3 separate regions of the Homo sapiens genome follow, and all the other regions are linked to region 1. Evidence: fine-mapped expression QTL. A gene starts in region 1. Each other region holds a variant in brackets. All regions are shown on one strand. Distances are between the middles of the regions. Region 1 holds the start of ZDHHC20 (zDHHC palmitoyltransferase 20). Region 2 overlaps ZDHHC20 (zDHHC palmitoyltransferase 20). Region 3 overlaps MICU2 (mitochondrial calcium uptake 2).

Evidence for each region. PIP is the estimated chance that this variant, and not a neighbour inherited with it, causes the effect.
Region 2: its variant is fine-mapped to the expression of ZDHHC20 in whole blood (TOPMed, PIP above 0.99).
Region 3: its variant is fine-mapped to the expression of ZDHHC20 in whole blood (INTERVAL, PIP 0.99).

What each region holds. Positions count from the first base shown.
Region 1 is chr13:21,452,034-21,462,759 of GRCh38, forward strand. It overlaps ZDHHC20 (zDHHC palmitoyltransferase 20), which reads right to left and starts at 7,270. Exons shown (of 13, transcript NM_001330059.2): 1 at 7,021-7,270. The coding sequence starts at 7,138. It overlaps LOC124903131 (a long non-coding RNA gene), which reads left to right and starts at 7,514. Exons shown (of 2, transcript XR_007063713.1): 1 at 7,514-8,146; 2 at 8,350-8,613. RefSeq lists a silencer at 7,183-7,562, an enhancer at 7,426-7,595 and a cis regulatory region at 7,511.
Region 2 is chr13:21,366,760-21,377,684 of GRCh38, forward strand. It overlaps ZDHHC20 (zDHHC palmitoyltransferase 20), which reads right to left. Exons shown (of 13, transcript NM_001330059.2): 13 at 5,812-9,896. It overlaps LOC124903130 (nitric oxide synthase-like), which reads left to right and starts at 9,930. Exons shown (of 1, transcript XM_047430813.1): 1 at 9,930-10,925. The coding sequence starts at 10,485. The coding sequence ends at 10,835. It also overlaps the pseudogene MIPEPP3 and the pseudogene RNA5SP25. RefSeq lists an enhancer at 10,185-10,701. The variant CTAAA/C (reference allele first, on the strand shown) is at 4,734.
Region 3 is chr13:21,534,989-21,542,988 of GRCh38, forward strand. It overlaps MICU2 (mitochondrial calcium uptake 2), which reads right to left. Exons shown (of 12, transcript NM_152726.3): 3 at 4,669-4,700; 4 at 4,314-4,389. Among named protein-coding and RNA genes, the nearest start is that of MICU2, 65 kb to the right of the region's middle. The variant C/CAAA (reference allele first, on the strand shown) is at 3,574.

The sequences.
Region 1 (10,726 bases):
TTATTTTTTTCCCTTTTTAAATTTTTCTTGGTTTTTATGCTAATCTTCTCTGTACTCTTCCAATTTTAGTATATGTGTTGCAAGCATGTATTATTCCAGTTATATGGGATGTTCAGAAAAGGCATTTGGAGACAACATGGATTAGTGGTTGCCTTGGGCTGGGGGTGGGAAGAAGGATTAACTGTAAATGGGCATGAGGGATCTTAATGTGCGACAGAAATTTTCAAAAAACGGATTGTTGTGATGACTGCAAAACTTGGCAAATTTACTAAAAATAACTGCATTGTACATCTTAAATTAGTGAATTTTATGACATGCAAACTATGTCTCGATCAAGTTGTCTTTAAAAACTAAAGGCAAAATTAAAACTTTTACAAACATACAAAAACTGAAATGATTCAGTCCAGCTGACTTGCACTACAATAAACGTTAAAAGAGGCCCTTCAGGCAGAAGGAAATGACACTAGATGGATTTACAAAAAGGAATGAAGAGAACTAGAAATGGTAACTATAGGAATAAATACATATATTTTGGGTTTTTTAAACCTAAATCTTTAAAAACTATTAATATAATCAACTGTTTAAACATAGTAGCAATACAGTGTGAGGTTTACAACATATAAAATGCACCATAATAGCATAAAGGCCAAGATGGAAGAGATAGAAGTATACTTTTATAAGGTATTATATATGAAACAGTACGTAACTTGAAGGTAGACTGTGATAACTCAAAGACACATGTTATAAGCCCTAAAGCAATCAATAAAGTAACAAAAAGAATTACTAGTAATATGCCAATAAGGAGATAGAATCATTTTTAAAAATCAAAATTAAAAAAATTGTAAAGATCAATTAATTCAAAAGAAGGTCAAAGAAGGAGAAAATGGAACAAAGAAGAGGACAGACAATAAAACAAAAGAGCAAATGATAGACTTAAGCCTATATCAATAATCACATTAAATGTAGATGGTCAAAACCCCCTATTAAAAGGCAGAGATTTTCAGGTTGGATTTTAAAAGACCCAAATATATGCTCTTTACGAGAATTACAATTTAAATATAAGACACATACACATTAAAAGGACAGAGAAAGATACATCATGCTCACAATAATTAAAAGAAAGATTAGTGCCCATGTTAATATCTGCCAAAGCAGATTTCAGAGTAAACAATATCACCAGGGGTAATAAAGTCACTTCATAATGTTAAGTGAGCCAACTGGTCAATAGGATATTGCAATCCTAAATGTTTTATGCACCTAATTACACAGATGTAAAATACGAGGCAAAAACTGATAGAACTACAAGGAGAAATAAATCACAATTATAGTTATACCTCTCTTAATAACTGAGAGAACAAACAGGAAAGCAAGAAAATAGAGGACTTGAATAACACTACCAACTTGCCTTAACTGACATTTATGGAGCATTATGACATAACAGAATACTCCACCCAGCAACAAACAGCACAATACATTGCTGAGTACAGACATATTTTTCGTAAGCACACATGGAACACAGCTCAGACAGACCACATTCTGGGCTATAAAACAAGCCTGAATACATTTTAAAGGATTTAAGTCATACAAAGTATGTTCTCTGACCACAAGGAAATTTGAAATCAATAACAGAAAGATATCTGGAAAACCCCCAAATAAATGGAAACTAAATCCATGGGGTCAAAGATCAAACCAAAAGTGAAATTAGAAAATAATTTGAATTTTGAAGGGTGGAAGCTGCAGTGAGCCGAGATTGCGCCATTGCACTCCAGCCTGGGCAACAGAGCAAAACTGTCTTAAAACAAAACAAAATAAAAGGATTTGTTTGTTCTTTGGGAAAGGGTCTTGCTCTGTAACCCAGGCTGGAGTGCAATGGCACAATCATGGCTCAACGCAGCCTTGAACTCCTGGGCTCATGGTATTCTCCCGTCTCAGCCTCCTGAGTAGGCTGGACTTCAGACACAAGCCACCATGCCCATCTAATTTTTTGTATTTTTTGTAGAGATGGAGTTTTGGCAGGCATGGTGGCTCACACCCGTAATCCCAGCACTTTGGGAGGCCGAGGTGGGTGGATCGCTTGAGGTCAGGAGTTGAAGACCACCCTGGCCAACATGGCAAAACCCCATCTCTACTAAAAATACAAAAATTAGCCGGGCGTGGTGGCACATGCCTATAATCCCAGCTACTCAAGAGGCTGAGGCAGGAGAATTGCTTGAACCCAGGAGGAGGAGGTTGCAGTGAGCCAAGATCGCCACATTGCACTGAAGCTTGGGCAACAAAATGAGACTCCATCTCAAAACAAAAACAAAAACAAAAACAAACAAACAAAAAGATGAGGTTTCATCAAGCCTCCCAAAGTGCTGGTAGTACAGAGGTGAGCCACTGTGCCCAGCCCAAGAAAATAATTTGAATTGAATGACAACCACAACACAACATATCAAAATTGATAGAATAAAACTAAAGCAGTATTTGGAGGTAAATTTATAGGACTACCTACCTAAGAAAGGGCTCAAATCAATGACCTTGGTTTCCACATTAATCTAGAAAAAGAGCATATTAAACCCAAAGTAAAAGAAAGGAAATAGTAAAGATCAGACAGGAAAACAACAAAACAGAAAAGAGAAAAATCAATGAAATAGAAAACTGGTTCTTTCAATATCAATAAAATACTTCAGAATCAACAGTGTCAAGCTAGCATGTACAATGATAGTGCTTAAGTTATTTATCTTAATCTGCCTCTAAATTTGAAGAAGTTATGCAGGAGACACAAGTAAATATTTAATACAGACTCAAAGGTTAGAGTCCACTCCACAAATTTGTCTGAAAAAAATATAAAAGGTATACCTGTCCTTGAACAAACAACATAGCTCTTTTGTTTGTTTGTTTGTTGGTTTGTTGGTTCGTTTTTGAGACAGAGTCTCGCTCTGTCGCCCAGGCTGGAGTGCAGGGGTGCAATCTCTGCTCACTGCAAGCTCCGCCTCCCAGGTTCATGCCATTCTCCTGCCTCAGCCTCCCGAGTAGCTGGGACTACAGGCACCCGCCACCACACTCGGCTAATTTTTTGTATTTTTAGAGAGATGGGGTTTCACCGTGTTAGCCAGGATGGTTTCGATCTCCTGACCTCGTGATCCGCCTGCCTTGGCCTCCCAAAGCGCTGGGATTACAGGTGTGAGCCACCACGCCTGGCCAACATAGCTCTTTTGAGCAATAGTTTCATCAGAAGTAAAGGGACTGAATGAGATTATCTTTAAAATCTCTTTAAGTTCTAAGATTCTCTACATGCCAAAGAAGAGGTACACATCCACTAACAAGATGACCTGAACAACAAGATATTCTGATAAAACCTTGGGAACCAGAATTAGCACTTGCCTCAAAAATAACCACCTTGACCAAAGAGAAGAAGTTATTCAATCCATTCGTACTTTAAATATCAACCCTGGGGAAAAAAAATCATACGAGAATTTCAGTCTAATTTAAAATCAAGGACCAATATTACTAATTACTTAATCTTCGCTTCTCAGCTTATCACTCCTGTGAGATGGCCGTTTTACATGCATTACCCTCTTCCTCAATTTTGTCCTCAGTATTACTCCCAGTGAAGTGGTGTGTGTGTGTGTGTGTGTGTGTGTGTGTGTGTGTGTGTCTAATTACACAATTAGCAAGTTACAGAGGGTAAGATGGAATGAGGGCCTCTTGGTAATCAACAATTTGTTCAACTTACAGCCAACTGTGGGCCAGGTATTTTTATTGTCTGAGATATTTAGGAATCTTCTGCAGCTGCCTTTTAGGAGAAAAGTACTTTATATAAATATATCATATACAGGACTGAAATCTGCCCTGAGTGTCCAGATCTGGACACCAAATAGATTAGTCATTAATTGTATAGTGGTTAACAGCATGGGCTTTGGAGCCAAACCCCTTGAATTCCAATTCTTACCATGCTACTTACTGGCTCTATAACCGTGGACAAATTACTTAACCTTATGGGGATCATTATTAAGATTAAATGAATTAATACATACATGTAAAGATATAATTATGATCTTCTCCTCCTAGTTTGATAAAGAATACCAGAATCTAAGAATATCCTATAGGCCGGGCACAATGCCTCATGCCTGTAATCCCAGCACTTTGGGAGGCCAAGGTGGGTGGATTGCCTGAGGTCAGGAGTTTGAGACCAGCCTGACCAACAAGGTGAAACCCCCGTCTCTACTAAAAATACAAAAAAAATTAGCTGGGCATGGTGGCGGGCACCTGTAATCCCAGCTACTTGGGAGGCTGAGGCAGGAGAGTCACTTGAACCCAGGAGGCAGAGGTTGCAGTGAGCCAAGATCGCATCATTGCACTCCAGCCTGGGCAACAAGAGTGAAACTCTGGCTCAAAAAATACATATATAAATAAAAAGAATATCCTATAAAAGTATTAAAACAGCACTTTTAAGTAAAACTCACACTTCCCTCCATTTAAGTCCTCCTATAAAGTAATATATCTATACATATTTCAGTGGGAGGGTCAGTACTTATGAAAACAAATACATACAAGTAGTTTAAAGGATAGTTTTAATATGAGTAAATGCACTTTTATGCTCAACTATTTTATACTCCAGTGACACTGCAGACCTCCCAAATTCTCTCTAGTTAAAATGAGATAACTCAGAAGTTAATACAGCCTCTACATAAGACCTTTCACCACCAAATATTTTAAGATTCTGCCAAGCATCAGGCCATAGTTATAGAATGTTTTAACTTAATGAAATTGTAGGGTATAATCTCTACAGAATGGGCCTCAAGCCTAACTAAGTGATCTCCAAAAATATGCCAACCCCTTTATCCCCCCACACCATTATGGACCAAACAATTACAGTTCCATTGACCCTCATAGCTTACTGAAGTTATATGAAAGAACGGAAAGATGTGGGTCACATTCCAATAATCAATTGTGTGACCTAACCAAAAGGACCTATTCGCTCAGTCTCACGTCCTCCACCTGTAGAGATACCTATGCTGTGACATACTGAAAGAATTAAAGGAGAGGGTGAATGAAATGTCCCCTCTATGCCCACTAGCACATGGCACTTCTCAATTCATGTTCATTTCTCCTTCTTTATTTGAAGTGGTGAAAGAAATCAGAAGCAATTTAAGACTTTTCACAGCACTGTTTGATCTCATTTCTTAATATTTTTGACAAAAACCATCTACAGGTTAAGCTGTGGAATCTCAACATAAATGCACATTTTTAGTGTTCCTTCAGCTTTACTTCAAAACCACTACGGGAATTAAAATACGGTAGGAATAATCTTCTGACAGAATAGGAATGACATAACTTTTAGAATAAATGCCCACTTCAGAGTAAATAAGAAGATAAAGGAGGTATCATCATAAGTTGATGAGAATCCTATGATCACTACCACTTTCTGGAAGTAGCTCCCAGAAATATTAAAATCTAGTAATTTTAATTGACTCAAACATCATTTTTAGTAAACATTCTGGTATCCAAAAGCATGAGACTAAACAATGATATTGAAAAGATTAATATTATTTGGAAATGTATTCCACAACTAATTTATTCTGGGCCTACCTGCAGGGATAGTCGTCCCAAAATTAAACGTTCTATAGGTACAAAGTAATTTTAAAACTGGATGTTTTAATTTCAAAACTTATAAATTTTCTGAGCCAAAGCATTCTCTTCCATGTATAGAACTAGGGTTTTAACCAAATACTTGGTTGAAAGCTGTACAAATCCAAACATAATTGAAGTCTTGATTCTGCCACTTTCAAGAGTGGGTGGTACAGATTCTTCTCATTCATAACATTAGTTTCTAGCTGATGTGGTTCGTTATTCAAAGAACACTTAACAGTCCTTCATAAAATGGTAGATTCAGTCTAAGGACTAAGAGTAGAACATTCTGGAATAACAATAACGTTTACAAACACCACTTACCATTTGGTCCTAGGTTTTCATAAAAAATTGATATAGGCAGCAGATGTATACAGAACACCCTAGTTGAGGCCAGTTTAAGTGTAAAATACCCACATACTCAAAGCCTAAGAACAATTTACTTAAGACAAAACAATGTTGGAGAAATTGCCCAATATCACAAATGTAGCAGTCACCCCTAAACAGTGTTTTTGATTAATGACAACCAATTTCCTTCAATCTTAAAGGCAACCAATTCAAGCCAGTAGGTTAAATCCTTGAAGTATACTGCAATGCTACTCCTTTTTTCCAGGGAATCAGATGAGAATTTTGTGCTAAGAACTTATCAGGAAAATGGAAGTAACGAAAATTAACACGCCAAAATATGAGTATAAGAAATATAAGCCTCCTTAATAATCAGCCAAGAAAAAAATAATCAGGTTATGTCTCCTCCCACCCATTCTTTCTGTCTTAACCTTCTGCAAAAGCCGGCTGGATTCAGAGTAGAAATAAACGAATTTTACAATGAGTCGAGTACCACCAAAAATCAAAAGTGGGAGCTTACTCGTCCTCCAGGTCTGACCCGCCTCCAGCCCGAGGCCACCAAAAGACACACCTCCCTTCCCCCAACCCGCCACAGCCGGCTCTACAGGTAACAGGCGTTTCTTCTCGCGCAGTTTGAACAAAAACAATCCAGAAGGAACAGATTTGGTTTTTTAAAAAAAATGAACAAAAGCCAAAAAAGCCACAAACACAACCTAAACCTTCTAAGAAGCTCGACTACTCCCGTTCTGCACGTTCCTTCCCAGAAGGATGCAGACCCCCGGTGTCGGCGGGAACCAGGAAGCTCTTGGGGCCTCCCTGGGCCAGACCTGCACCCGGGAAGCCGCCGCAAGGCTTCAGGAGCCCCAGGTCGCCCCAAGGCCGCGCCGCAGGATTGAACAAAGCGGCGGGTGCAGCAACCTCGGCGCTTCCGAGCGCGTTCGGGGCCGGACGCCCGGCGTCCGGCGCTGGCTCCAGAAAGGCGGCGGGTGTGGGGCGCAGAGGCCTATCTCGCGCCCTAGCCGCGGCCCGCGCCCCGCCGCAGTCCCCGGGGACGGTACTCACACACGCAGAGCTCCACCACGTACGCGTAGTAGGACCAGACGACCACGAAGGTGATGAAGAGCACCGGCACCCAGCCCACGACGCGCTGGCAGCAGCGCCACAGCGTCCAGGGCGCCATGTTCCGCTGGCGGCTGCCGAGCCCCGCGTCCCACCGTTCTGGGGAGCGCGGGAGCCCCGGCGACGGTGACTCGGACGCTCCAGGCGGCTGCTGGTCCAGCTCCCCCGCCTCCGAGGCAGGACTTGTGGGAGCAAAAGTCCGAGGCGCCGCCGGGACTCCTCCCGTCCCGGCGCCCAGCCAGGCCCCGCCCCCACCCCACATCCCGTCGCCCCCCTCCCCCCGCGTCCGTCCCCGCCAGCCCGCCCGCCGCGGGCCGCGGGCCGCCCCCGGTCTCCGCGTCGTTGGGGCGGGGTTTCCGCGGCCGGGGAGGCGGTGAGGGGGCGGGGCCGCAGCTCGGGACCGCCCATGGGGCGTGGCGGGGCTGGATGCGGACAGGCTGGGCGGACGCGGGAGGCCGGGGAAGGAGAGGCGAAAAACACGCCCTTGATGGATGAGAGGGACAGGGGATAGCTTTTGTGGATCGAGACTCAATAGGGGAGGGAGACTATGGAAATGATTCCTTAGCTGATTTGTGGATCTTGGCCCTCTCTGTGTACAGAACTCGCTCCACTGGGGTTCCTGGGACATTGAGTAGTTGGGGCACTGTTTCAAACATGACAAGGCCATTCCCCACTCAGTGTGCGAAGAATGCACATTGTTAGAAGGCTCCTCCTGTGATTTTTATGTTCGTCCATCTTGGCGGAACCCCTCCCTTTCTTGAAGATGGAACGGTAGATACCTGTAATTTCGGGTAGAAGCCATGTAGGGTCCATCAGTTTGATTCGTAACCCAAATTTAAGATTGAGTAGCGAGAAGGAAAGGGCATGTAAATGACCCTCTCCTTGCCCCGCAAACGACTAAGGAAATTTAAAGAATTTATTTACAACTAGAGGTTGCTAAGCAATGACGATAATCATATAGAACCCAGAAGCATCACTGTGAAGACTTCACAATGCAAGGTCAGACGCATTAGAAGGGATTCCAGACCGCAATCTTCATACCAGTTCCTGCTACTAGCATTCAGTTTTGGTTAGAATGAATTTTTGTGTTTGTTTTTTGAAACAGGGTCTTCTCGCTCTGTCGCCCAAGCTGGAGTGCAGTGGCACGACCTGGGCTCATTTAAGCCTCGACCTCCCTGCTAAAGCACTCCTCCTGCTTCAGCCTGCAGAGTAGCAGGGACTACAGGCCCGCCACCATGCCCAGCTGATGTTTGTATTTTCTGTAAAAACTAGGTTTCGCCCTGTTGCCATGCTGGCCCTGAACTCCAAGGCTCAAGGAATCCCAACCCCTCTCCGCCTCCACCTCCCAAAGAAGTGCTGAGATTACAGGTGTGAGCCACCACGACCGGCCTACACTGAGCTTTAAATTAGCTACTGCTCACTAAAGTCTCCATGAAGAAGACGTCACCCTTTGCTGTGTCAGAGAAATGTAGTAAAAGCGAGTAAGTATTTAATCACTGCACACTGCTGCTTGAGTAATAAAGCATGTATAAAAGATTCTGTTCTCCCTGATTTTGTGCCTTAAAAGTCATATTAGTTAGTGGCCTAGTTGACAGTAGGTTTAGGTTCAAGTTCAACTAGTTTTCCAGAGAGGCTGCTTAGGAGGGTTAGACCTCAACATAGAATTCGGATGGACATGGAAGAACATAAAGCCGTTTCTCCTCTATGTCATCTCTACGTACCAAAACCATGCTGCTAGAGCTCAGCACAAAGCCATGTCCTTTACAAGCTCCAGGGCTGCTAGAAATGATCTTTCACGACATTTTGTTTATAACCTAACTATAAAACTGTCACATTCGTTTCCTAGGGTGACTATAACAAAGTACCACAAAACTGGGGAATAATAGAAATTGGTTGTCTCACAGTTTAGGAGGGTAGGTGTCCCAAATCAAAGTGTTGGCAAGGATATTGGATATGGTTTGGATGTTTGTCCCCTCCAAATCCCATGTTGAAATGTGATCCCAGTGTTGGAGGTGGGACCTGGTGGGAGGTATTGGATCATTAGGGTGGATCCCTCATGAATGGTTTAGTGCCATCCCCTTGGATGAGGGGTTCTTTCTCTAGTAGTTCACATGAGATCTGGTTATTTAAAAGAGCCTGATCCTTCCCCCACTCTCTCTCTTGCCCCCTCTCTTGCCATGTGACATGCTGGCTCCCCTTTGCCTTCTGCCGAGAAGGCAGAAGTCTATCTCTGTGGTCCTGTGTCTTCAGAGATAAGGATGTTCCTTTGTCTGGGTAGAGGGAGGGCACCTCTTGAATAACAGTCTTAGGTCTGCCTTCAGGGGAAGGCCTGAGACGCTTTTGCTAGTGCTATGGCCTGCTTCAGGGGAGAAGAGCGAGAGGAAGGTGAGAGGGACCTTCCTGTTGCTGTTGTCTCCAATGTTGTCTCCAACTGATGATTGGAAGCTTCTTGAGGCCTCACCAGAAGCATATGCTGACCCCATACTTTCTGTACAGCCTGGAGAGCTGTGGGCCAATTAATCCACTTTTCTTTATAAATTACCCAGTCTCAGGTATTCCTTTATATCAGTGCAAGAATGACCTAACACAGCCATGTGCCCTCTGAAACTTGTAGGGGAGAATTCTTCTTTGCTTCTTCCTAGCCTTTGGTGGTGACCATTAGTCCATGGCATCCCTTGACCTGCAGTGGCAGTGGCATCACCCCAATATCTACCGCTATCCTCAGGTGGCATTCTCCTTTCCTGTCTCTCCCCTTATATTGGGTTAAGGGCCTACCCTACTCTAGTATGGCCTCATCTTAACTAATTACATCTACAACAGGCCCACTTCCAAATAAGGCCACATTCTTTTTTTTTTTTTTTTCAGTAGAGTCTTGCTCTGTCACCCAGGTTGGAGTGCGGTCACGTGATCTTGGCTCACTGCAACCTCCACCTCCCAGCTTCAAGTGATTCTCATGCCTCAGCCTCCCGAGTAGCTGGGATTACAGGCGTGCACCACCACGTGAGGCCTGCATTTTGTATTTTTGCTAGAGATGGGGTTTCCCCATGTTGGCCAGGCTGGTCTCAAACTTTTGGAGTCAAGTGATTTGCCTGCCTCGGCCTTCCAAAGTGCTGGGATTACAGGCCTAAGCCACCTCGCTCAGCCAATAGTTTTGATACTCATTGAAATATGTGATCTTGCCTACTACCTTGTAAGGTTCTAGAAGGTAGAAAGTATTTCTTGCACATCCACAGTGACTTGCAGTAGGAAATATTTAGTAAGAAATTGTTGAACAAATATTTAAAGTTTTCTATTGTTATCCAGTTACTCCTCCTAACTTCTGGCGTTGCCAACCAGATTACATTAGCTTGTGATTTCTTTTTTTTCTTTTTCTTTTTTTTTTTTTTGAGACAGAGTCTTGCTGTGTTGCCAGGCTGGAGTGCAGTGGTGCAATCTCAGCTCCCTGCAACCTCCGACTCCCTGGTTCAAGCGATTCTCCTGCCTCAGCCTCCCCAGTAGCTGGGATTACAGGCACACACAACCACGCCCAGCTAATTTTTTGTATTTTTTGTGAGCCACCGTGCCCGACCAGTTTCTGATTTCTAAATGACTGCCACATATTCTAAGGTGATTTATGTGGGATCTAGAGAATATTTCTGATCTATGTCCT
Region 2 (10,925 bases), 85 kb before region 1:
AAATGAGACAGTGTTAGCTGGGCGCAGTGGCTCACACCTGTAATCCCAGCACTTTGGTAGGCCAAGGCAGGCAGATCGCTTAAGCCCGGGAGTTCAAGGCCAGTGAGGGCAACATGGTGGAACCCCTTCTCTACAAAAAATACAAAAAATTATCTGGGCCTGATGGTGTGCACCTGTGGCCCCAGCTACTCAGGAGGCTGAGGTGGGAGGATTGCTTGAGCCTAGGAGGTGGAGGCTGCAGTGAGCTGTGATTGTGCTGCTGCACTCCAGCATGGGTGACAGAGTGAGACTCTGTCTCAAAAAAGAGTGTGTACACAGCCAGAGCCATATAAAATACAGGCACAGATCACTCTGCACCTGTCATCTAAAAAGACACATCTGGCTGGGCGCAGGGGCTCACCAGCACTTTGGGAGGCCCAGGTGGGCTGATCACCTGAGGTCAGGAGTTTGAGACCAGGCTGGCTAACATGGTGAGACCCTGTCTCTATTAAAAATACAAAAAATTAGCCGGGCATGGTGGTGCATGCCTGTAATCCCAGCTACACGGGAGGCTGATGCAGAAGAATTGCTTGAATCCGGTAGGTGAAGGTCTCAGTGAGCCAAGATTGCGCCACTGCACTCCAGCCTGGGCAACAGAGTGAGACTCCATCTCAAACGAAAAAAAGAAAGAGAAAAAAAAAAAGACACATCTGTAGAAACCTACCCTAGTGCTGCCTCTCCCTCCCACTCACAAACCCAGGAATAAGTACTGAATGAACAATCCCACCTACAAAATAGTATTTCATTTGTTAAAATAATTAGAGATATTTATAACATGTATTATTCTACTAGCTGTACTTTATCATGTGTCATCACCTCCGAACACCCAGAAGCCTAAGGTGTTTCAAAACAAGGGACTTAATTTCATCCACTAGCAACACAGCTGTGTTAAGTGGAACTACAGTATAATCTGGAGTGTTTTCTAAAAACAAATAGAACCATTCCTTTTATGCTTTTCTGATTTCTCCAGTAAAGCGTTCATTAATGAGTTACAGCTCAAAGAGATGGCTTAAGAACATCAGTTGGCCTGGTGCAGTGGCTCACGCCTGTAATCCCAGCACTTTGGGAGGCCGAGGCAGGCGGATCATGAGGTCAGGAGATCAAGACCATCCTGGTTAACATGGTGAAACCCCGTCTCTACTAAAAATACAAAAAAAAAAATTAGCCAGGTGCTGTGGTGACGGGTACCTGTAGTCCCAGCTACTCAGGAGGCTGAGGCAGGAGAATGGCATGAACCTGGGAGGCGGAGCTTGCAGTGAGCCGAGATCACGCCACTGCACTCCAGCCTGGGTGAAAGAGCGAGACTCCGTCTCAAAAAAAAAAAAAAAAAAAAAACCATCAGTTGGAGAGAGTCCTTCCTCCTTTACAAATGCTGCCAAAGGACATTGGGTTTTGAATTTAACAACCCAAAAATGTGTCAAAAATGTCACTTTTTGTGGGGGAGGAGCAGGGCTTCCTGTTTGCTACTATAGAGACTGGTGTGGAATGCATGGAGCTGCTAACATAGGGGTTGCTTAACTATGGCCTGTGGGCCAACTCCAGTTCACCATCTCATTTTTAAAAATTTGTCACAAACATCTTCACTTCAAAATACCTAGTACTAGATATTAAAATATGGACTTAATATATCCACTCTACACACAGCTGTTTGTAGAATGAAGTGCACATTGGGGATAATGGCTATAATCCGAATATGGACATTTTGGTTCAGAACACTTCCCAATGGGCAAAGTACAGATATGTTATACTACAGAGGTAGATTACAAATTTCATTTCTAGAAGCAATGTTTGGGGCTGGGCATGGTGGCTCACACCTGTAATCCCCACACTTTGGAAGGCCAAGGTATGAAGATTGAGCTCAGGAGTTCAAGACCAGCCTGGGCAACAAAGTGAGACCCCTGTTTCTACAGAAAAAAAATGAGCTGGGCATGGTGATGCCCATCTGTGGTCCTAGCTACACAGGAAGGTGTAGTGGGAGGATTGCTTGAGCCCAGGAGGTTGAGGCTGCAGTGAGCTATGTTTGTGCCACTGCACTCCAGCCTGGGCACCAGACTGAGACCCCTCTCAAAAAAATAAAAAATAAAAGCAATGTTTATTGGGTAAACATGGACATAAAGATGGCAACAGTAGACAGTAGGTCTATCAAGTACTATGCTCACTACCTGGGCAATGGGATCAACTGTACCCCAAACCTCAGGACCAACACAATGTACCTATGTAACAAATCTGCACGTTCCCCTTCAATCTAAATGTTGAAGGTTGGGCGTGGTGGCTCACGCCTGTAATCCTAACACTTTGGGGAGGCTAAGGTGGGCAGATCACTTGAGCCCAGGAGTTCGAGACCAGCCTGGGCAATATGGTGAAATTCCGTCTCCACCAGAAAAATACAAAAATTAGCCAGTCTCATCACCTGTTCTCAAATAAATATGTTGACATTATTTAAAAATTTTTAAAAAAGCAATGTTTAAAAGATTTTCTTCTGGCTGTGTGCAGTGGCTCATGCCTATAATCCCAACACTTTGAGGGGCCAAGGCAGGTGGATCACCTGAGGTCAGGAGTTTGAGACCAGCCTGGCCAACATGGCAAAACCCTGGCTCTAGTAAAATACAAAAATTAGCCAGGTGTGGTGGCAGATGCCTGTAGTTTCAGCTACTCGGGAGACAGGAGAATCACTTGAACCTGGGATGCAGAGGTTGCTATGAGCTGAGATCACACCATTGCACTCCAGCCTAGGTGACAAGACCAAAACTCTGTCTCAAAAAACAAACAAACAAAAAAGACTTTCCTCTGAATTTAACCAACAGTATCCTAAAATATATTTGCTAACTCGATATTTGTCATGAAATTAGAACATATACTTTTATATACCCTATGTATACAGCAACATTAAATGTGTCATATGAAATTAGAATATATACTTCTAATAAATAAACGTGCATAATTCCCTTCTCCCTATCCTCCAACCACTCAGAGAAGAGCATAGATTAATGTAATTTTCAGTGGTTTAACATCCTCCCATCCAAGTACTAACCAGGCACGACCCTACTTAGTTTCCAAGATCAGATGACATCAGGCATGTTTAGGGCGGTACAGCTGTAGGTGGTTTAGCACTTTCTATTAGGGAGACAATCTTTCTAAAGCAATGCTCTATATCCACGGGTTCTGCATCTGCAGATTCAGCCAACCATGGCTCAAAAATATTCAGGGAACCCTTCACCCAAATAACAATGCAATAAAAAATACAAATAAAAAGTCGGGTGCGGTGGCTCATGCCTGTAATCCCAGCACTTTGGGAGGCTGAGGCGGGCGGATCACCTGAGGTTTGGAGTTCGAGACCAGCCTGACCAACATGGAGAAACGCTGTCTCTACTGAAAAAAAAAAAAAAAAAAAAAAAAAAAAAAAAAAAAAAACCAAAATTAGCCGGGCATAGTGGGACGTTTGTAATCCCAGCTACTTGGAAAGCTGAGGCAGAATTGCTTGAACCTGGGAGGCAGAGGTTGCGGTGAGCCAAGATTATGCCATTGCACTCCAGCCTGGGCAACAAGAGCAAAACTCTGTCTCAAAAATAATAATTATAATTATAATAATAAAAAATATAACTCCTATATGTATTAATAGCATTTACACTATATTAGGTATTATAAGTAATCTAGAGGTGATTTAAAGTATATGGGAGGATACGCATAGATTACATGCAAATACTAGACCATTTTATTTACTTACAGGATCTTGCTCTCTTACCCAGGGTGGAGTGCAGTGACTCCATCACTGCTCACTGCAGCCTCAGCCTCCCGGGCTCAATTCATCCTCCCATCTCAGCCTTCCGAATGGTTGGGACTACAGGCGTCCACCACCACGCCTGGCTAATTTTTTTGTTTTGTAGAGGCAGGGTTTCACCATGTTGCCCAGGCTGATCTTGAACTCCTGAGCTCAAGTGATTCACCTGTCTCGGCCTCCCAAAGTGTTGGGGTTACAGGCGTGAGCCACTGTGCCTGATACTAGGCCATTTTATATCAGGGACTTGAGCATCTGTGGATTTTGGTATCTGTGGGAGGTCCTAGACCAATCCCCACGGATATCAAAATCCGAGGATGCTCAAGCAGACCTCAGTATCCCCATGGATACCAAGAGATGACTGTATTGAAAATATTTTTCAATATTTTCAATATTTTTCAAACACTACTCCACATCTATTTTTAATATGTGGTGAGCACATCTAAACACGTAGAAAAGCTAGATACAGGCATTTGAATGAAGGACCTAAGTTTAACATTGTATCCACAGGAGTGCTGAGTGAAGTTTATCATTGTATCCACAGGAGTGCTGAGTAATAGCACGCCTGTGGATCAATGCTTCTAAATGCACATTCTGGCGGGAACCTTTCCCCTCCTTCACTGCCTTTTGCCCTTCCTTCAACCCATGAAACGAACGAGGGCATGAGTCCAAGAAATGCTGTAAAAATTGCATTCCCGTAAGTGATTTCCAGAAGGCAATGTTCCTTTCCAGTGAATCTTAACAAAAGGGTTGGAAAACAAGTTTTTCTCATTTTACTTTTAGCATCGTTGACAACCTCTCCACATCTAGAGAGGCTCTACATGTTGCAAATAATTCACATTTATTTTAGAAGGTTGCGGTAAAAACTTAACAGCAGCTGGTCCACATTATATGCACAGGATCATAGTTGGTAAATCTT[CTAAA/C]TAGAGGGTTGTCACTTCCGGTGGCTGAATGAGACAAACCATAAGCCATCATTTCTCACTCCCTCTATCAATTAACACCCAGAGGGGTGTTGTACCTGTATGCCTGTACCCCACACAGGACCACTGCCTGGAAAGGCAGGATGCCTGTGGCTCTATTTCCACTACTCACCCATTCCCTGGAGTAGGCGCTCAATTAATAGGCTGAGTTTAACACACAGGTACACAGCATGGATACTGTAAAACTCTTAAGTGGGATCACATTATATGCAGATTGCAGATTTCAGCAATTTGACTTTTTTTTTTTTTTTGGAGACAAGAGTCTTGCTCTGTCACCCAGGCCGGAGTACAGTGGCACGATCTCGGGTCACTGCAACCTGTGCCTCCTGGGTTCAAGTGATTCTCCTGCCTCAGCCTCCCAAGTAGCTGGGATTACAGGCACCCACCACCACACCCGGCTAATTTTTATATTTTTAGTAGAGACAGGGTTTCACCATGTTGGCCAGGCTGGTCTCGAACTCCTGACGTCAAGTGATCCACCCACCTCGGCCTCCCAAAGTGCTGAAATTACAGGCATGAGCCACCGTGCCCGGCCTGCAATTTGATATTTTTACCCGTCTTCAAGATCTTTCCTTTCTGGTGGAGATACTTCAATTTTTATAAATATAGCTACAGGAAATCTTTAAATGGCTTTAATAACAAACTTGGCCTCTTTGGAAGGGCACTGGAACACAGATGCCATAAAATAATTCTACATAATAAAATCTATTAATTATTCAGCATTTTAACAATCACAATTCAACAACTTACAGTGATCTGAAGGTTCTCAAGATCCTAAATGACTTCTGAAATTAAATTATGTTCAGTAAAAAGCTAAGTTAAACTCTTTAGGTTTTGAATAAACCTAAGTAAACAACAATTTTGTTGCACTAAAATAATACCTATCTTAAAAGTGGTTTCCCCAAACTATTAGCCAATCTCTTTCTCTAACCAAGCACTATTTTACCAGATTTTCAAGTTGATAAACATAAGTTACTCTCTCATTTGGTAAATACCACTTTATAACAAAGAAAACACTTCAAATACAAGACTTTGTTTATTAATAAAGTAATTCATTATGACTTTTGAAAAAAAAAGTTTTAAAATGTTCTGTGTACATGTCAATGTAGGTTAGGCCAGCCAAAAGACAAAGCAAAGCATCAACATTAAGTCACAGGCTAGGATTATACAAATAAGAACAAACACAAGGCTTATGGTACTTGTTAGGTAAACACAACCAAACTAAACTGTACTTCAAATTTGTTTATATAAAAGCATATTAAAGCTCACTTTAAAATAGTGTCCATCTTTTCTTTTAAACGGGCATAGACTCATTTGCAGTCATGTACAAATATACCTAATAGCTTTCTTCATCTTTTAATACAAGTACAATTCCTTGCTTCTTTATGCAACCTAACAAAATAATATAGAATGAAGTCATTAGAAAAATATGAACCTTTCTGAATCTATATTACATTTTTAATTTAAATTGGAAAATACAGTTTAGATCATATGAAACATATGGATTTCAGACATGTATTATCTGTTTCTAACAGATTATTACAGGCGGTCTTTATTTTGGCTGAAATGCAAAAATATGACTTTCTTAATAACAGATTAGTTAAAAATACTTTCCATTGATAGCAGTGCTAGTCCCTAGAACAAAAGGTAAGCAAAACTTATTTGTAAGTTACTGCCTATTCAATGCCCAGAATATGTAGATCCTAAATCTAAGCCCTTAATATACATCTACTTTAAAGATAACTGAAAGATCTCACATGCCTGATAATCCTTAATTTAAACCGTCCTGTAAACATAGTCAAAATCTGCTAATAGAAATACAATTCAAGTAAACATTGCATATTTGATTTAAACCACCTTACAGTTAAATTCACTCATGACACATTGGATCATAACCACTAATATGTAAAAAGTTTTAAAAAAATCATCCTTACGTATAGATGAAAATAAACTTTGTAAACTTGTTCATTTAAAATAACGAATGTACTGCAGCTGCTCTTTGGTTTGGCATAGTTTCAGGTACTGAATATTCAAGTAAATTTGTTCCCAGGTAAACCAAGTCTCCTAATTTGTCTGTAATGGCAATGGCAAGACCTGAACTTCAACTTTATTTTTCTTAAGGTGTCATCACAAAGTGTTTGAAGGACCAAAGATAGTACTTCTAAAATTTGACAGGGCTTCATTTTGATTTTTTCTCCCCAAATAGTTGATAGCAATAATCAATACCAGTTGAGATACCAAAGAGGCAGCCTTTCCCTGATTCCCACACCACTTGTAGGCCTTTGCTAGAATGGTCATTAATACGTATGAATCAGTTGAGCTAAATATTATTTAGAACGTGGCAAAATGCTGGCTGTAAATTAAATCAAAGATAAGTAATTCAAAGGCTTTAACTGAAAATTTCTGAAAAGATGTTTGCTGTGCTATTAAAGATGTTAAATAACAAAAATTAAAAGAACTGAGAAAGACTATACCATGAAAGTGCATAATAGTGAAGAAAAAAATGAAGTTCCCTTGGCGTTAGCCAGGTGCATGCAAATCTTTTTATCTGAATGTAGAAATGCAAAAAGTACCAGGAGAACATTTCTGAAAGTAGTCAAGTATGTTTTAACATTTATCTCCTTATAATATGCAAACTGCCAAACTGGAGTTATGTTTTTAGTTGGTAATTGATATATATATATATTTTTGAGATGGAGTTTCACTCGTCGCCCAGGCTGGAGTGCAGTGGCACGATCTCGGCTCACTGCGACCTCCACCTCCTGGGTTCAAGTGATTCTCCTGCCTCCACCTCCCGAGTAGTTGGGACTACAGGCGTGTGCCACCATGCCTGGACAGTTTTGGGGTTTTTTTGTATTTTTAGTGGAGACAGGGTTTTGCCATTTTGACCAGGCTAATCTCGAACCCCTGACCTCAGGTGATCCGCCAGCCTTGGCCTCCCAAAGTGCTGGGATTACAGGCATGAGCCACCACACCCAGCAATAATTGGTATCTCTTAAATCTCATTCTAGTTTGCTAGAATCAAGATTACTAAGGAGTTGAAACAAAGGTAGAAGAATCCATACTATAATATCCCAAATTATGTTTTCAAAGCTAACTCATTCCTTTGGTTCAAAAAGAAAAAAAGTTGCCTCCTTTTAAAATCCAATATTAGTATGGCTGATGGAAATTAGGCCAAATTATAAACAAATTATAAACCTACAGTAGCAACCATAAAATTTATGCTGTACTAGGAAATGACAGAGCTATTCCTAGTTTATTATTTAGCATACAGAAGGTACTCCAAAAAATTTACCGGGGCGGGGCGTGGTGGCTCACGCCTGTAATCCCAGCACTTTGGGAAGCTGAGGTGGGTGGATTATTTGAGGTCAGGAGTTAGTGATCAGCCTGGTCAACATGGTGAAACCTCGTCTCTTCTAAAAATGTGAAAATTAGCCGGGCATGGTGGCATGAGCCTGTAATCCCAGCTACTTGGGAGGCTGAGGCAGGAGACTCTATTGAACCTGGAAGGCAGAGGTTGCAGCGAGCCAAGATCCCGCCACTGCACTCCTGCCTGGGAGACAGAGCAAAACTCTGTGGAAAAAAGAAGAAAAAAATTTATTGGGTGAATGAAAAGTGATTTTGCAAAATTAGGCATCACAGAATGTTAGAAGTCATCCAGTCCAACTTATTCACAACACCCCCTCCCCTGCAGTCCCATTTTACAGACAGGAAGCTCCAACCTGTAGTACTCACAGATGCTGCTGAGATTCATCTCCACCCACTCACTGGAAGCAATCAATTATTTTGGGGGGGGTGTGTGTGTGTGTGTGTCTGTCTGTCTAAAAGGTGTAAATGAGGAGTGACATTTCTACATTGTTTATTCTGTACTTTTCCTTGGAGTTAATGCAACACCTCCTGTCGCTTAGATTTTAAAAGGAAAAAGGAGAAATGTGTCTAGTCATAAAGGGGTTGCCGTTAGGAAGTCAGACTTCAGACTGTGCGTCTAAGAGTAGAATCCACTTCTCAAGAGACTGGGAATGTAAAATGACCACTCAGGTTAGAATTTCCAACTGACAGCCAGGAGGAAAACTTACTCTAAAGTTTTTTTTGCCTAGTTTAAATTGCATTTTAAATCACTGTTTAAGCTATTACAGTATTACTGTAAAAAGTTTCAAAGTAATTTTTAGTCATTACCTACACTGAAATTTGAAAGTGAAGTCAACAGCATGCTTTATTCTAACTGCTGTTAAAACTCAAAACTATTTTTTTTAACAAATTACAATATTCCTCTTAGATTTTCTTCTGGACACCTATACTTCTTCCTACTGTGTCCAGTATTCTCCAGCACATGTACCTTTGTGTTTCTCTGCCCATGTACATACCCCTGAAAGTTCAACAAAAAAAGCTATAAAATAGCAGAGAGAACCCAAAATATTTCTTATACTGCCAAGTTCCCTTTAAACCTTGGGCACTTGCTCTACTACATGGTTGTATTAATGCTCATAACTAAGCTTTCGATGAATTAGACCAATGTGTTCTATGTTCTAAATGATATTTAGATATCTGAATCCTTCTGTTATAGCCAACAATAAAAAAAGTTATTAAAAATGTTGAAAAGTATAAAATAGTAATTATAAATTAGCAAATACCCAATTTAAAAAAGCAGTTTTCCTTATACAGTACAAGCAACAGTAATTTGAATATTATTCACTTTCAGCCACCATTTGCCCTAGATGTACTTTAAAGTTTTTAAGCTTGTGTTTTTGGAGTGAAAATGTATATGGATACTTATTCTAATAATGTAATTCAGGTATCAAAAAATACATATGCATGTTAAAATGTGATGACAGCTCATATTATAGCAACTCATAACAGGTAAGTATTATTTCCAGAATAACATTAAGTCACTTTTGTAGCTCTAAGTCAATGCTGCACAAATGGACACTTAAGATTAAGGCATCATTCTGCTCTGGAGTAGTGCTTCTGTGAATCCCAGGAACTGTACAAAGGCTTTCCGTTTTAAAAAATATATCTTCTGTTATACTTCAGTTATTTCATTCCACTGATCATTTTCTTGCAAATGAAAATTGAAAATACCAGTCTATAATGTTTTCATACACCTACAAAAAAAGAAACAAATTATTGGTTAAAACTTGATTTTTTATTTCTGAAAATATTTACTAAATGGTTCTGTGGGCTAAGGTACAAAGCTACTAATATAACAAGATGGAAAATGAATTCCTTAACACTACTAATATTATAACAATAAAGATTTTTGTAGCAGTAAATGAGTGGGTATTACTGTCTTCCCCAGAAGCAATCAAAAGAGTATTTTAAAAGGAAGAATCTTACAGTACTCCCAGACTGCTAACTTGGACATCATCTGAGAAGACATCTGGTCCACCTACACCTGTCCTAAGATTGGCGCAAGATGTAGAAAACTTCCCACAGCAACTGTTAAAGGAACTGCAGCTGAGGATTCTCAACCACCACAAGCATCAGCAATTATTTCTGCCCACATTAAGAAGAAATGTGGACCTCAGACTGAGGGCTTTTCTGGGGACCAAGTACTACTCCACAGCTCCAGCTCTTGGTGGCATGGACCTGGCTTACAATCACCGTATGCGGGACACAGCTCCTCTTCTGACTGCAGCGCACTCGGCCCGACGTGACCTCCACCCCTAGTGCCTGCGATCTGACTGCCCGACATGACCTCCACCCCTAGTGCCTGCGATCTGACTCTGCCCGACGTGACCTCCACCCCTAGTGCCTGCGATCTGACTCTGCCCGACGTGACCTCCACCCCTAGTGCCTGCGATCTGACTCTGCCCGACGTGACCTCCACCCCTAGTGCCTGTGATCTGACTCTGCCCGACGTGACCTCCACCCCTAGTGCCTGTGATCTGACTCTGCCCGACGTGACCTCCACCCCTAGTGCCTGCGATCTGACTCTGCCCGACGTGACCTCCACCCCTAGTGCCTGCGATCTGACTCTGCCCGACATGACCTCCACCCCTAGTGCCTGCGATCTGACTGCCCGACGTGACCTCCACCCCTAGTGCCTGTGATCTGACTCTGCCCGACGTGACCTCCACCCCTAGTGCCTGTGATCTGACTCTGCCCGACGTGACCTCCACCCCTAGTGCCTG
Region 3 (8,000 bases), 82 kb after region 1:
GAGTCTGGACTGTGAATGCAGCAATGAAGCTGTACAGGTACTTCTTTTCAGAAGCACGGTATGCTTCTAAGGTTTTGAAATGGGGTTGTCTTTTCAGTTTTTGAAGATTAATCTCTTATCTCTCAATTTTTTTTTCCTTAAGATGATTTAAATTTTCTCTCTTCAGTTTTTATTTTACTCATTTTTCTTGAAAACACTTTTTAATAGAATTTCTAAAATCACATTATATTTATGTAGAGTTTTACACAAAAGCTGAATTAATCTACTCTGGCTCTCATATTCTGCCTTTAGATCAAAATTATTATAGAACCCTCCCCAGCCTTCCTTACTTCAGGAAAAAAACATCAAATAATCATAAGATAACTCAGTTTATATCCACAGAGATTATCTGAGTTTTCACAACTGGTAAATATCTTTCTTAAGAGTCTCAAAATGCTTCCAGAAAAGTCTATATTATGGAAAGGTACCTCAAAGCCATAGCTCTGATCTAAATATTGGTACTTGAAATTTAAACATCTTGCTTAAAATCTACTTTAAAATGCCAAATTAGTAATTTCCTAAAGTAAAACCTTACAAAATATTTATTAACTATGATTTTAAAAATACCATTTATTTACAAACTCATTAAGAGGCTAAGGCTCAGTTAATATTAAATCTTACAAAAAAATATAGCAATATTACCAATTATAAACTTAAAATGTACCAGACACACAGCAAGAAAACTAAAACCAACTTGCCCAAGGTTACACAGCTAATAGAGCTAGGAATCTAAACCAGGCTTAAAACCCATGTTCTTAATATTTTTTAAGGCTACATACCAGATACTATAAATGTTTAAAATATCTTATTTTATTAAATTCTTTCAACAATCCCATAAGGAAGGCATTACTATCTTATTTTAAAAGGTGATGAAAGTGAGGATGAAAGAGATTAAGTAATTTCCCCGGGTCATAAAACTAGGAAAAATTTGAATTTAAGTCTGTCAACTTCAAAACACACACTTTTGTTCACTAACCATATACTACATTCCAGTAAATTCCCACTATAAAAAATTTAGGAGCTTGTTAACCTCAAAGTCTATAGGGATGTTCTGGTGCTATGACTGGAAGGAATTGGTAAAGGGTGGGGTGAAGTGGGTATAAAGATAAGTAGACAGTTTAGTATAAGGAACTAATACTCACAGAATATAATGAAAGTCCACTAAATATTGATACAGAATGTACAGAAATAGATATTTATCAATAAACAATAACTGATTAATATTGATTTTATGGAGTTATTATACCTTTGTCATATTTTTCTTCTCCATGGAGTGTTATATGATAAACTTATTCTCAATTTAAAACTAAATTTTTTTTTTTTTGAGACACGGTCTTGCTCTGTTGCCCAGGTGACCACACACAGCTCACTGCAATTGCAACCTCAACCTCTCGAGCTCAAGCGATCCTGTCACCTCACCCTCCCAAGTAGCTGGGACTACAGGTGTGCATCACCACGCCTGGCTAATTTTTCTTTTACATTATTTGTAGAGATAGAGACTTGCTATACTGCCCAGACTGGTCTTGAACTCCTGGGCTCAAGCTATCCTCTTGCTTCAGCCTCCCAAAGTGCTGGGATTACAAGCGTGAGCTAATGCACTCAGCCATAAAATTAATGTTGATTTGAGAATGTTGTAAATCTCTTGAGATAACTGTAAAAGCTCTGCTGCATTCAATGAAAGGTTATAAACCACTGATTTAGAAATTACATTTGTTTCTTAATTCTCCAATTCCTTCTTTAGACAACAGGAAACAATAATTAATTTATCACCAATCTCAGGTGAACACTTTTTCTACACTTATAAAATAAGAGTGGTCCATCTCTCAGATCCTTGATAAGGTTCACTAAATTAACTATGCCAACTTCTATTTTAGCTGTCTATTTCTACGGTCACTCCCTGAACCCTGAAATCACCTGCAAGTGCTTCAGCTTAGAAACTGTAAATTCAGACACCTACTCTATGACCATGGTTGTTTTCTGCTCTTGGACATCCACTACATCTGTTTTCAACCTCACTGGCAGCTTTCTCTCTAGGCTTTTTTCTATTCCTGGAGTTTATCATGAAAAGGGGATTTTTTTCCCTCTTGACTTTCCTACTTTCTTTTTAAATTTTTCTTCCTATTTTACTTTATTCTCTATTGTCTCTGCTTAAACTCCATGGCTCATTAGTTAAAACCTCTCTTGCTCCTAACACTGTTAACTCCCTAGGCCGTGACTTCCTCCATTCTTCTGCCTAGCAAATCCTAACTGTCCAACTATTCTAATCTACAACTACACTGATCAATGACTCATTCTTTCATAATCTATGTTCTCTTCTAGTCCTTGAAGGATTCCCAGAAGTCTGTTTCTCTCATCAGTTCTTTTTCCATATCCCAGAAGCTACTTCAAACCTTCTTTCTCCATAAAGCTCAGACCTACTATATCCAACATTTTCTTTCTTTCTTTTTTTTTTTTTTTTTGAGACAGAGTTTCACTCTTGTTGCCCAGGCTGGAGTGTAATGGCATGATCTCGGCTCACTGCAACCTCTGCCTCCCAGGTTCAAGCGATTCTACTGCCTCAGCCTCCTGAGTAGCTGGGATTACAGGCACCCGCCACCATGCCTGGCTAATTTTTTGTGTTTTTAGTAGAGACAGGGTTTCCCCATGTTGGCCAGGCTGGTCTCAAACTCTGTACCTCAGGTGATCGGGCTGCCTCGGCCTCAATGGCCTCCCAAAGTGCTGGGATTACAGGCGTGAGCCACCGCACCTCACCCTAAATCCTATTTTATAAAGAAAATCAAGGCTACTCCAAAACACCTCCCTCATTTGCTTGCCAGTAATTTGCAAATATCTGCATAAAATGCTCATTTGTTCACCCTTTTCTCCTGATACAGTGGGAAAGACATCCTCCCTGTGGAATGCTGATCCTTCCACTCCTGTTCTGAAGACAATCCCTTCTTTCCTATTTTCCAGGATTTTGTCCTATTCATACTTCCTTTGTATTGTCCACCTCTCCTTCTCATCAACAAGAAACATGCTCACCACCTAAAATAAACCAATATTCTCTTGGCCTTTTTTCTCTACCCTTAGCTACTACCCTCTAACTCCTCTGTTCATGACCATGTCTCTCAAGAGGTCTGCGTTTACTTTTCTCATATCCGCCCTCACGTCTCAGTGCTCTGCAACTTGGCTTTAGATCTCATCCTATCACTGATCTGTACAGTTGGCCCTCCGCATCCATGCATTCAACCAACCGTGTATCAAAAATATTAAAAAAAAAAGGTCTGGTGTGGTGGCTCATGCCTGTAATCCCATTACTTTCAATGGCCAAGTCAGGAGGACTGCTTGAGCCCAGGAGTTTGAGTCCAGCCTGAGCAATGTAGTGAGACTCCCGTCTATACTAAAATTAAAAAAAATTAGCCATGTATGGTGGTGCACACCTGTAGTCCCAGCAGGCTGCAGCAGGAGGACTGCTTGAGTCCCAGAGTTTGACGCTGCCGGGAGCTATGACTGCGCCACTGCACTCCAACCCAGCAACAGAGCAAGACCCTGTCT[C/CAAA]AAAAAAAAAAAAAAAAAACCCCAAACAACCCACACCAATACAAATAAATAGAGTTACAGAATATAACAACTATATACATAGCATTTACATTGTATTAGGTATTATAAGTAATCTAGAGATGATTTGAACTAAATGGGAGGATGTTTGTAGGTTATACGCAAATATGATGCCATTTTATATCAGGATCTTGAGCATTCTTGGATTTTGGTATCCAAGGGGGGTCCTGGAATCAATACCCCATAGATAACAAGGCACCACTGTACTTGTTAAAATGTCAAACACTTCCAGCTGCTAAATATAGAGGATACTTCTCAGTCCTTAGCTCACTCAACTCCCTACATTTACTTGGTTTTGACATTTGATAAGTTCCCTTTTTCTTTAACACTTTCTCTGCTTGGCTTCTGTGATAACACTCTCCTGGCATTCCTCTACCTCTCTGATTACTCTGCCATGACCTCTTTCCGTCCACTCCCCTAAGTGGTGTGGCTCCTCTGGATGCCCTTGAAGGCTTCTCATCTTTTATTTTAGATACTCTGCCTCATACCCTCATCCATTAAAACATTGATGTTTTAATAATTTATCTGTAATTGCTCAAAGACTTTGAAAAAGTTACCTCCTTACTTCATGTTTTAAAAACACCTATTAAATAACATGGTACAAATCTCATACCTTAATTCCTTAATAATACTTCAGTTAAATAAAACACATAACTAGAAATTTAACAACAAACCAAAATTACCTTTATCGCCAAGGTCTCTGAAAAAAGTTGATCCACAGCCAGCTGTTTGGATCCCTGACAGTGTATCCTCGATGTCCTTTGAATACACATATTAAAATTAAACTTCTAAAAGTTCATTTTCTTTGTAGCTGGGACTACAGACGCCCACCTCCATAGCCGGCTAATTTCTTTTTGTATTTTTAGTAGACACAGGGCTTCACTGTGTTAGCCAGGATGGTGATCTCCTGACCTCGTGATCCGCCCACCTTGGCCTCCCAAAGTGCTGGGATTACAGGTGTGAGCCACCGTGCCCGGCCAAAAGTTCATTTTCTATCTTACCAAAAACAAACCCTGCCCCCCACAACATGATGCTTACCTTTTTTGTCAGCTTCTTGACTGAAGTTTTACCTACAACAAATAAGAAACATTATTTAGTATCCATATTCTTTGGTAAAACTCAACTTGCACTAAGAAAGAAAATTATTTAAAAGACAAAACAAACAACTAAATATTTATTTAAAAAGCAAAGGCTTGTAATTTTAGCTAATATCCTTAAGCCATAATCATGAGTCAGAGAATTCTAAGACTAAACACAAAGACACTACAGTTTTTCACAAGATCCATTTTCAATTTCACTCACCCTATTTCATACATATGAAATTGTATATAACCATCTATGATTTATCCTAGTTGTATGAATCATATTATTAATTCTTGTCAAACATAATTTCTTCACATGATTATTAAAATCACTCTCTTTTTACTTTCATTGATTTAGAAAAAAACACTCATGATTTATAAAGCTTCCTTTTTTTGAACTCTGGAAAGTCCTCTTAGGCTTATAACTCTCCAGTCAAATGTAAAAGTCTAGCCAACATAACCATCCATTCTAAAGTAGTTATTTTTAATAATTTCCTACTGGATAACAGAGATTTAAAATTCTTTCAGGTTTTCAGCCACCCTCTTTACTGCCTACATCATTTTCCTAATATCCACCATAATTCTAAAGCTATTACATTGTTTCTTTTTTTTAGGACTTACTCTGATGATAGCCTCAAATCATTTTAAACATCCAGAACAAAACTGAAAAATGTTTTATTTTGTTTCTTACATAAGCAATATACAGCACTAACTTTACTTATTGCTCTCAAAATTATCTTGTCTATGAAGTTCCTTCAGCACAATTACGCAGTCTGTAGAAATTCAGGTGGCACATTAAAAAAGAGTGCTTTTAGATGTGGCTTTTCTGTAGTTTGGGTTGTTTAATTTGGACGATAAATCTACAAGGGCAAATTCTATTATTTGGTATTAGTAAACTGTCAGGATTTTATTTTTACATTATTAGTCAAAACATTACTTGTGAATATGACTACATACTTTTTAGAAACATCTATGACTATGTTTGTAAGCTTAGGTGTTGTTATTTTGGGATAATTTTTACTCACTGGAGAAACTATTATGTGCCAGCCAAAGACAAAGAGCCCCAGATTCTACTGTTAGGTGTTGTTATAGTATCAGATAATCAAATAGATAAAAATTACCATTTATTGGACAAATCTAAGTGAGTGAATGTGTATATAATACGTAGTCATATAATGCTGATAATGAACTCCAAAAAACTGTGTAATACATGTATTTACTTATCTTTACATAGTCAATTAACTTAAAAAAGAAACTGATCATTATTTCTATGCTTGTCCTAAAGTTACGCCACAAATAGTCATTACCATGTACCCTTTTATTTTTAGACAACTAAAATTAGTCTTATCTGTTTTTAAAAAGCGGATTAATCCTTACATCCAACTTAAAGTAGTCTAGAAAGCAATGATTGACATTTTGAAGGCAGAAGAGGATCAAGAATTTAAGGTAGCAAAATGGATGGTGTCTAAGAGTTTCTTAGAAATCAGATTATTTCTAAGGGGTGTTATCTGTTTGAAGGCTAGATTCCTTTTTGGTCTTTCAAAAATCTGTTAAAAAAAAAAATCCTTCTACTTGAAACTGAGTGAGTAAAGAAGGTAATGTTTGCTTCCCTCCAGCTAGAAGTCTGGCTGCCAAACAGGTAAGCCAATAAAATTCAATACTATGTGAATGAAATACCACAATAAAGTCATGAATTGATTGAATAATATAACACCAGAATTACAGGTAAAAAGTAAATTATAAAATCTATGGAGGCAGATTTCATACCTGTCTTACTTTTATGTAGGTCAGTGCTAAACATTTAAATATTTGTTGAATGAGTAACTGAATAAACAAATCAGAAAAGATTTCACAATGTCTTCTTATCCAGGTCCCTGTCTTTTGGATAAATTATTATATCCCCACTTTACATGTAAAACAAATTGGCAAGAGGAATTAGGTAACAATATGGGCCTTGAAGGATTTATTTTCATATCTCATATAGATTTTTCAAAAACAGGTGTTAGACTCTTTGAATTCCATGACAGTAGTAAAAAGAGCCTGCGGCCTACTTTCAACACTTAACAAAACTGAATAATTATGCATGGTACGATTATAGAGGCAGTTTTGCTGCTTTTCATTATTTAATGTAGATTACAAGTTCTATTTGACATGTATATAAAAATTTGATCATCAAAAAGGAGAAAACCAGATACTTAATGCAGTTTAAGTTGTAAAAACATCTTTTTAAATTTTTTTAATTCAAATGGAATAAATAATTAGAAAATAATGAAGAAATTAACTTTTTGATTAAAAGTTTAGAAGCTAGTCTCTTACATAAAATTCATTTTTAGATTAAAAAAAAAAGACAAGGCAAAGATACTAGGAATGAACACCCGTTCTCTCCTGCTTCCTCTTTCTCTTCAGTTAATGCACCTCTCCCTGAGTATTATGAGAGGTTGTGGTGTTTCTAATCCAGAACACTCTGGCAGGGTTTTCTTGGTAGACAGTTGTCTCACCCAGGATGCTTACTCTATACTACTTGTTCATGGCTGAGCAGCAAAATAAGAGGTCCATGGTCTGACCTGCACAGCAGGAGCCATGACCTTTTTTCTCCCTACAGCAGTAACAAGGCAAGAGCATATTAAATACACCTAAGTATTTCTGGACAATATTTTTCTATTTAAGGATAAAACCCATCTGGCAAATAATCTAATTTTTCCTTCTGTTTTTGTTTGAGTTTGTTTTTTTCAATGTAGGGTAGGGGGACACTCCTGTCTCTCTTTCTTTGGCTATTTCCACATTCACACAAATAAAAAATTCAGTCTCATTATTTTCACAGCTATTTGATATGTATTCACACACTTATGTATGAAAATAACAGAATGGGGCAAAAAACAGGAAAAAAGATCTAGAATTGAGGTTGTAATGTTTCATTGTATGAATATGAAAACAAGAAAAACACATTAGGGGTTTTTGTTTTTGTAGGAGGCGGCATAGATCTTGAAGCACTAGGAATTTTGGTTCAGGAAGTAAAATGTTTTAAAAGGATTCCACCCATATTAGAGATTCCACCATGTGGTTTTCACTATTTACAGAGGATTTATGAAGTAAAATCCAGATACAGCATATCCTGTTATAGGTAAGTGAGCCTTTTAATACTTAAAATAGTAAAGCTGCATTGATACACATTAAGTGTTCTTATAGATCCAATAAATCTGCCCCTGGCCAAAATAAAGTTATTTGATAATCATAATTACAAAAACAACACCAGCACTACATAACTTAATTTCATTTTGTAGAGGTTAC